Linked DNA regions of Homo sapiens: region 2 is linked to region 1. The links come from fine-mapping of genetic effects on gene expression. A gene starts in region 1. The other region holds a variant in brackets. All regions are shown on one strand. Distances are between the middles of the regions.

The links. PIP is the estimated chance that this variant, and not a neighbour inherited with it, causes the effect. A credible set is the group of variants that fine-mapping cannot tell apart.
Region 2: its variant is the best candidate, but not a certain one, in a credible set for the expression of SGCB in fetal neocortex (Walker 2019, PIP 0.65).

What each region holds. Positions count from the first base shown.
Region 1 is chr4:52,036,162-52,040,525 of GRCh38, reverse strand. It overlaps SGCB (sarcoglycan beta), which reads left to right and starts at 2,227. Exons shown (of 6, transcript NM_000232.5): 1 at 2,227-2,299. The coding sequence starts at 2,267. RefSeq lists a silencer at 2,015-2,454 and an enhancer at 2,695-2,814.
Region 2 is chr4:51,681,540-51,685,934 of GRCh38, reverse strand. No RefSeq gene overlaps it. Among named protein-coding and RNA genes, the nearest start is that of DCUN1D4, 160 kb to the left of the region's middle. The variant AC/C (reference allele first, on the strand shown) is at 2,632.

The DNA of each region.
Region 1 (4,364 bases):
TCAGATGGTCTGTTATAGAAGCACAAAGTGGACTAAGTCAGCTTCTAAAGGCCCTACCTCCTAATATCATCACACTGGGGGCTAAGATTTCCACATGTGAAATATTCAGGGGAGACACAAACATTCATTCTATAGCAATCTGCAAAGACTCTGTTTCAAAGTAACACCACGTTCACAGATACTGGAGGTTAGGACTTGGATATGCCTTTTTGCAGGGCACTATTCAAACCACTGCAAAGTGAACAAAGGTGTAAGTGTCTTCATAATCTGACTCATACTCCAGCCCTGGGGACCTGTGTTTTGTGCTTCCAAATGCTAATATCATGCAACAGTCAAAAGAAAGAGCAAAATTAAAGGCTGTGATGTATGGTAGAAAGAGCAAAGACTAGTCAGATGGACCTAGATTCAATACTGGCTCTTTAGGAGTTGAAAAGATGGTCAGCCATTTAACCTCTACAAGCCTTGATTTCTTCATTTGTAAAAGAGGCATTGCCAGGCACAGAGTTGACTTTAAATGTCATTATTTCAGGGGAAAAAAGGCTGACAATAGTACATTTGAAAATAACCCACATTAAAATGTGGTCATGTGAGTGAATTGGATCTCTTTAAAAGAGAATAGAAATTGGCATTAAGAATAGTGGGATGTCCTGTCAGAGATGGACATCAGCGATGAGGAAAGAATCCAAGAGAAGGTGATATTCAAATAGCCAAAGGAGCATTTGGTTTCAGGAAAATTGGCTACCAGGTATCTCACCACCTAAGTGGGAGGGAGGTTGGCAAAATCAAGTCAGGGCTTAGAAATTGGGATACTGGGCAGATTTCTAAGATATCTATTAAGTTTAATTACTGTGCTAGACATTGGAGATTAAACGATGAGTAAGACACCTACCTTCCAGATAGAACACACCATCTTTTGAATGAAATCAGCAGGTAGACAAGATAAAAATACAATGCAATCTGAAGTGCTAGAAAAGGCTAGGCACACAGTTAAGGAACAGATCTGTGGGAGCCTCTGAAGCCTTTAGAGAAAATATGACGTTTGAATAGAATAGTTCTTGAAGGATGAATAAGAGTGCGCGTGCCAGGGAAGAAGAACTTTCCCAGCAGAGAGAAAAACGCAAAGCTTAGGAATTAAGGACTAGAAGATAGGAACTCAGAATCAGTTAAAAGCCCAGTTGTGCAAATTGATCAATGAGACCACAGGCAGAATATTAACACAGAGCCTTACTGCTGACTCCTGCATCATTGGGCTTTAACTTAGAATTTTCCTGCCTAAAATGCATGTTTGTCCCACAGACTCAGAGAGGAGTGAGTCTAGAGATATGAGTCAAGTGGTTCCAGCATTTAGGAAAAAAGAAATGCAGAGAGACTGATGACCAGCTAGGTACTGACTCCCACTGAATTAGACAGTACTAGGGCCCAAAGGTGCTTATTAGAAGTGATTCAGCTACATGAGGAACAGTTGCTATTGACTTCACTGCATTTTTTTTCAGCTAAAATAATTATTGGATTATATCTACAACAGGGAACAATGAATGTCTACTCAAGTAACTCGTACATTTGAGTGGCTTCCCGGTGTTCAGTAAATGTCCGTTCAATTAGGTTCCCGAGGATATACATGGTAACACTATCTCCAACACTAAATGAAAAATCCATCCCCAGTATCGCAGGATAAAAACATCAGACTTCATAGGCCTCCGAAGTCAAGCAGCCCGAAGGATTCAACGTCCTCCTTGAGGACTCTCAGTCTTCAAGACTCCAGCCACCTAAGTGACCACTCGTTCACTTCTGCCCACGCAGTCACCACGCCGGTCCGCGTCCACTTGTGGTCTCGATATCGGCCCCTCCCACCCTAGCCAAGGAGACCTTGGTCCGAGAAACAAAGAGAGCCTCACAGCTCCGGATGGCACCGATCTTTCAGCGATGGGGAACAAAGGGGAAGGGGAGAAGCGTCCTCGATTTTTGAGGGTGCCCTTTCTGAGGAATCTGCAGGCGGCCCGGGGTGGAGCGGAATCCCCATAGGCCCCTTCTGGCCCCTGTGCAATACAACGCGCCCCAGGCCAAGGTCCTAGGTGCAGGGGCCGCCGCAGAGCCTGAGCCCGCAGGGCTGGGATGCGGGTCGTCAGGGATGCGGGCTGGGGAGGGGAGGGTGTGAGCAGCGGGTGCCCCCAGTCCCCGCCAGGGCGCAAGCGCAGGCGCGCAGGGTGCGGTCGCGGAGGGGCGGGCACAGTCGGGCGGGGAGCTCGGCGGCGGCGGGCGCGGGAAGATGGCGGCAGCGGCGGCGGCGGCTGCAGAACAGGTCTGTGAGTACCGCCGCGGCCGCGGGCTGGAGGAGCGGGGGAGGCCGCGTCCTGCCGGCTGGGCCCGCGGGAGCCCTGGCCGGGGGTGCGGGGGGCGCGGGCCGCAGGGTCTGGGTTCGGCGGGGCCGATCGGGGCGGGGCGGGGCGGGAGGAGCTGTGCCCCGCCGAGGATGCTGGCACAAGCTAGGGACCAGGAGCCAGGGGCGGCCTCGGGCTCGGCCCGGCCTGGCTGATCCTCGGAGGGGGTGAGGAGGGGTCTCCTTCCGGAGAGCCTGGGAGGCGGTCGAGCCAGCCTGGAAGCCTGCGCTGGGACGTGCCAGGGACGTACCCCGTTCAGCCGCCAGCAGAGATTTGGATAAAAATAACCGCAGCCCCAGCGAGAAGGCTCCTCTTACAAGAAACGGGTCAGCTGTTGCCCCGGTGTCAGCTTGCCATCTTTGTTTTTTGTTTCTGCCATCTCCAATATGCAGACATCCCAGATTTCCCCTCACGCTTTGGTTTTTGAAGATTTAGTCACCAGTCTAAAACTATCTCCTGTTCACTTTTAAAAATGATTTATCCAAGATTTCCTGACCTGCATTGTAAACTTGTAACTTAGAATGGTTTAAAAGGCTCCTCATCCCCCCAAAATCTAGTTATACGTATGCATACATGTACATGCATATGTGTGTGTGTTAATATATACATACACGTAATCGCTAGGGTGATTTATTGTAATACAGATAATTTTCAGTAACTTTCCCCCTTACCTAACTTACTTTTCCTTTGAACAATTATAGTAGTTTCTCTTTAAAAAGTCTCATTCTAAAACATTGTTGAAAAAAATGAGTCAAGTTTTGACCTTTGGAACGATTTTCTTAGATAATTAACTTTTTAGAGACCTATTAGATATATGTCACTGGAGGGCTCATTCTGAAGATAAAAGACGTAAAATCTCTCTTCAAGGAGCTTAAAGTCATACAGCCAAATACATGCAGAAAAAATCAGCTAAAGACAATAGGCAGGCTGCAGATTTGTAACAGTAAAATAAAACATAGAGGAATGAGTGAAACTGAAAGGAGACAAAACTTCTTGGAGTTGGTATTTAAATTGTGCCTTGGCTTTCCTCATTTCCCGCCTAAGTTATCAGCTTCTGTTTCAGATGATTGTTTTTCCATCTGGTTCTATTTTTGCTTTACACATAAGTGGGGCAGTCTGATCCGTTACTCAGTCTCCACTTCAAATTTACGCATTACGTCTCCAGCCCTGAACTTAACTGAATTTTCCATAGGCACCTCAAACTCAAAAATGTTCAAAACTGGACTCTGTCATACTTACTATTAAAAAGGCTACAACCATCCATTCACTTGTTTAACCTAGCCAGAAACTTAGGACCAAGGCCATTTTAAGGGAGCTGAGAAGGACCTGCACTTGGTTTAATGTTCTGCTGTCCTGGGCTTGAGATTTAAACAGTGAGCCCCACATTTTCTTTTCCCCCTGGGCCCCACAAATTATATAGCCAGTCCTATTTGGGAGTCATCTTCGACCCCTTTGTGCCACACTCATATCCAAACAATCACGAGATCCTGACAGTTCTACCTCTTAACACCTTTCCCCAGACTTCAGCTTCAAAGTCAAACCTCAGTCAGTACCTCATTGGGACTCTTAGAGAAACCTGCTGTTGATATCTTCACTTCTAGGCTCTTCAGTTCCAGTTCATCTCTTTTTGGAGTGATTTTACTACAATGCAAATCTGATTGTATAGGAAACCTATTTTAACTCTTCAGTAGTTCCCCTTTGCCTTCAGGATAAAGTCCATTGTTCTTGTCATGGTATTTATGTTGCTTACTGGCCCCTAAGCACATCTCTCATTGTATTTCTTGCTTCATCCCTACACCTATCCTTCTCACCATCCACATAAAGTGACCAAAATTAGTTCTCCCAGAGATGGTTGCCTCTCAAAGTCTCCATGCTTCTTCCTCTGCCTAGAGTGACCTTCTTAGCTCTTTTGCCTGGTTAACTCCTGTCCATCCTTCAAGAGTTAACTCAACCTTCAGCTTTTCTTAGAAACTTTCCCTGATGCCC
Region 2 (4,395 bases), 350 kb after region 1:
TGAAGATATTCCGGTTTCCAACGAAATCTTCAAAGCTATCCAAATATCCACCTGCAGATTCTACAAAAGGAGTGTTTCCAAAATGCTGTATCAAAACAAAGGTTCAACTCTGTTAGTTGAGGACACACATCACAAATAAGTTTCTGAGAATGCTTCTGTCTAGTTTTTATTTGAAGGTATTTCCTTTCTCTCCATAGGCCTGAAAGCGCTTGAAATGCCCACTTCCAGATACTAGAGAAAGAGTGTTTCAAACCTGCTCTATGAAAGGGAATGTTCAATTCTGTGACTTGAATGCAAACATCACAAAGAAGTTCCTGAGAATGCTTCTCTCTAGATATTATATGTCATCCCGTTTCCAACGAAATCCTCAAAGCTATCCAAATATCCACTTGCAGATTCTACAAAAAGAGTGTTTCAAAACTGCTCTGTCAAAAGGATGGTTCAACACTGTTACATGAGTACACACAACACAAAGAAGTTTCTGAGAATGCTTCTTTCTGGTTTCTATGAGAAGATATTTCCTTTTTCACCATAGGACTCAAAGCGCTCGAAATGTCCTCTTCCAGGTAGTGCAGAAAGAGTGTTTCAAACCTGCTCTATGAAAGGAAGTGTACAACTCCATGAGCTGAATGCAAACATCACTGAGAAGTTTCTGAGAATGCTTCTGTTTGATTTTCTATGAAGAAATTCCCGTTTCCAACGAAATCTTCAGAGCTATCCACATATCCACCTGCAGATTCTACAAAAGGAGTGTTTCCAAAATGCTGTATCAAAACCAAAGTTCAACTCTGTTAGTTGAGGACACACATCACAAATAAGTTTCTGAGAATGCTTCTGTCTAGATTCTATATGAAGATATCCCCTTTCCAACGAATCCCTCTAAGCTATCCAAATATCCACCTGCAGATTCTACAAAAAGAGTGTTTCCAAAATGCTGTATCAAAACAAAGTTTCAACTCTGTTAGTTGAGGACACACATCACAAATAAGTTTGAGGATGCTTCTGTCTAGTTTTAATTTGAAGATATTTCCTTTCTCCCCATAGGCCTGAAAGCGCTTGAAATGTCCACTTCCAGATACTACAGAATGAGTGTTTCAAACCTGCTCTATCAAAGTGAATGTTCAATTCTGTGACTTCAATGCAAACATCACAAAGTAGTTCCTGAGAATGCTTCTCTCTAGATTTTATACGTAATCCCGCTTCCAACGAAATCCTCAGAGCCATCCGAATATCCACTTTCTGATTCCACAAAAAGAGTGTTTTAAAACGGCTCTGTAAAAACAAAAGTTCAACTCTGTTAGTTGAATACACACATCACAAACAAGTTTCTGAGAATGCTTCTGTCTAGTTTTTATGGGAAGATATTTCCTTTTTCACCATAGGCCTCAAAGCGCTCGAAATGTCCGCTTCCAGATAGTGCAGAAAGAGTGTTTCAAACGTGCTCTATAAAAGGGAATATTCAACTCTGTGACTTGAATGGAAACATCACAAAGCAGTTTCTGAGAATGCTTCCCTCTAGATTTTATATGGAGATATTCCCTTTTCCAACGAAATCTTCAAATCTATCTAAATATCAACTTGCAGATTCTACTCAAGGAATGTTTCCAAAATGCTGTATCCAGGCAATGGTTCAACTCTGTTAATTGAGGACATACAGCACAAAGAAGTTTCTGAGAATGCTTCTGTCTAGATTTTATATGAAGATATCCCGTTTCCAACGAAATCCTCAAAGCTATCCAAATATCCACTTGCAGATTCTACAAAAAGATTGTTTCAAAACTGCTGTGTCAAGAGGAAGGTTCAACTCTGTTACTTGAGTACACACATCAAAAAGAAGTTTCTGAGAATGCTTGTTTCTGGTTTTTATGAGAAGATATTTCCTTTTTCACCATAGGCCTCAAAGCGCTGCAAATGTCCACTTCCAAATATTACAAAAAGAGTGTTTCAAACCTGCTCTATGAAAGGAAGTTTTCAACTCTATGAGTGGAATGCAAACATCACAGAGAAGTTTCTGAGAATGCATCTGTCTTGAGTTTCTATGAAGAAATTCCCATTTCCAACGAAATCTTAAAATCTATCCAAATATCCACCTGCAGATTCTACAAAAGGAGTGTTTCCAAAATCCTGTATCAAAACAAAGGTTCAACTGTGTTCGTTTACGACACACATCACAAATAAGTTTCTGAGAATCCTTCTGTCTAGTTTTTAATTTGAAGGTATTTCCTTTCTCCCTATAGGCCTGAAAGCGCTTGAAATGTCCACTTCCAGATACTACAGAAAGAGTGTTTCAAACCTGCACTATGAAAAGGAATGTTCAATTCTGTGACTTGAATGCAAACATCAGAAAGAAGTTCCTGAGAATGCTTCTCTCTAGATTTTATACGTCACCCCGTTTCCAACGAAATCCACAAAGCTATCCAATTATCCACTTTCAGATTCCACAAAAAGAGTGTTTTAAAACTGCTCTGTAACAGAAATGTTCAGCTCTGTTAGTTGAATACACACATCACAAACAAGTTTCTGAGACGGCTTCTGTCTAGTTTTTATGGGAAGATATTTCCTTTTAACCATAGGCCTCAAAGAGCTCGAAATATCCACTTCCAGGTAGTGCCGAAAGAGTGTTTCAAACCT[AC/C]TCTATAAAAGGGAATATTCAACTCTGTGACTTGAATGCAAACATCACAAAGCAGTTTCTGAGAATGCTTCCGTCTAGATTTTCTATGAAGATATTCCCGTTTCCAACGAAATCTTCAAAGCTATCTAAATATCAACTTGCAGATTCTACTAAAGGAATGTCTCCAAAATGCTGTATCCAAACAAAGGTTCAGCTCTGTGAATTGAGGACATACAGCACAAAGAAGTTTCTGAGAATGCTCCTGTCTGGATTTTATATGAAGATAACCCGTTTCCAACGAATTCCTCAAAGCTATCCAAATATCCACTTGCAGATTCTACCAAAAGAGTGTTTCAAAACTGCTCTGTCAAAAGGAAGGTTCAACACTGTTACTTGAGTACACACAACACAAAGAAGTTTCTGAGAATGCTTCTTTCTGGTTTTTATGAGAAGATATTTCCTTTTTCACCATAGGCCTCAAAGCGCTCGAAATGTCCGCTTCCAGGTAGTGCAGAAAGAGTGTTTCAAACCTGCTCTATGAAAGGAAGTGTTCAACTCTACTGAGTTGAATGCAAACATCACAGAGATGTTTCCCGAGAATGCTTCTGTCTTGATTTTATATGAAGATATTCCGGTTTCCAACGAAATCTTCAAAGCTATCCAAATATCCACCTGCAGATTCTACAAAAGGAGTGTTTCCAAAATGCTGTATCAAAACAAAGGTTCAACTCTGTTAGTTGAGGACACACATCACAAATAAGTTTCTGAGAATGCTTCTGTCTAGTTTTTATTTGAAGGTATTTCCTTTCTCTCCATAGGCCTGAAAGCGCTTGAAATGCCCACTTCCAGATACTAGAGAAAGAGTGTTTCAAACCTGCTCTATGAAAGGGAATGTTCAATTCTGTGACTTGAATGCAAACATCACAAAGAAGTTCCTGAGAATGCTTCTGTCTAGATTTAATATGAAGATAACCCGTTTCCAACGAAATCCTCAAAGCTATCCAAATATCCACTTGCAGATTCTACAAAAAGAGTGTTTCAAAACTGCTCTGTCAAAAGGATGGTTCAACACTGTTACATGAGTACACACAACACAAAGAAGTTTCTGAGAACGCTTCTTTCTGGTTTCTATGAGAAGATATTTCCTTTTTCACCATAGGACTCAAAGCGCTCGAAATGTCCTCTTCCAGGTAGTGCAGAAAGAGTGTTTCAAACCGGCTCTATGAAAGGAAGTGTTCAACTCCATGAACTGAATGCAAACATCACTGAGAAGTTTCTGAGAATGCTTCTGTTTGATTTTATATGAAGAAATTCCCGTTTCCAACGAAATCTTCAAAGCTATCCACATATCCACCTGCAGATTCTTCAAAAGGAGTGTTTCCAAAATGCTGTATCAAAACCAAGGTTCAACTCTGTTAGTTGAGGACACACATCACAAATAAGTTTCTGAGAATGCTTCTGTCTAGATTCTATATGAAGATATCCCCTTTCCAACGAATCCCTCTAAGCTATCCAAATATCCACCTGCAGATTCTACAAAAAGAGTGTTTCCAAAATGCTGTATCAAAACAAAGTTTCAACTCTGTTAGTTGAGGACACACATCACAAATAAGTTTGAGGATGCTTCTGTCTAGTTTTTATTCGAAGATATTTCCTTTCTCACCATAGGCCTGAAAGCGCTTGAAATGTCCACTTCCAGATACTACAGAATGAGTGTTTCAAACCTGCTCTATCAAAGTGAATGTTCAATTCTGTGGACTTCAATGCAAACATCACAAAGAAGT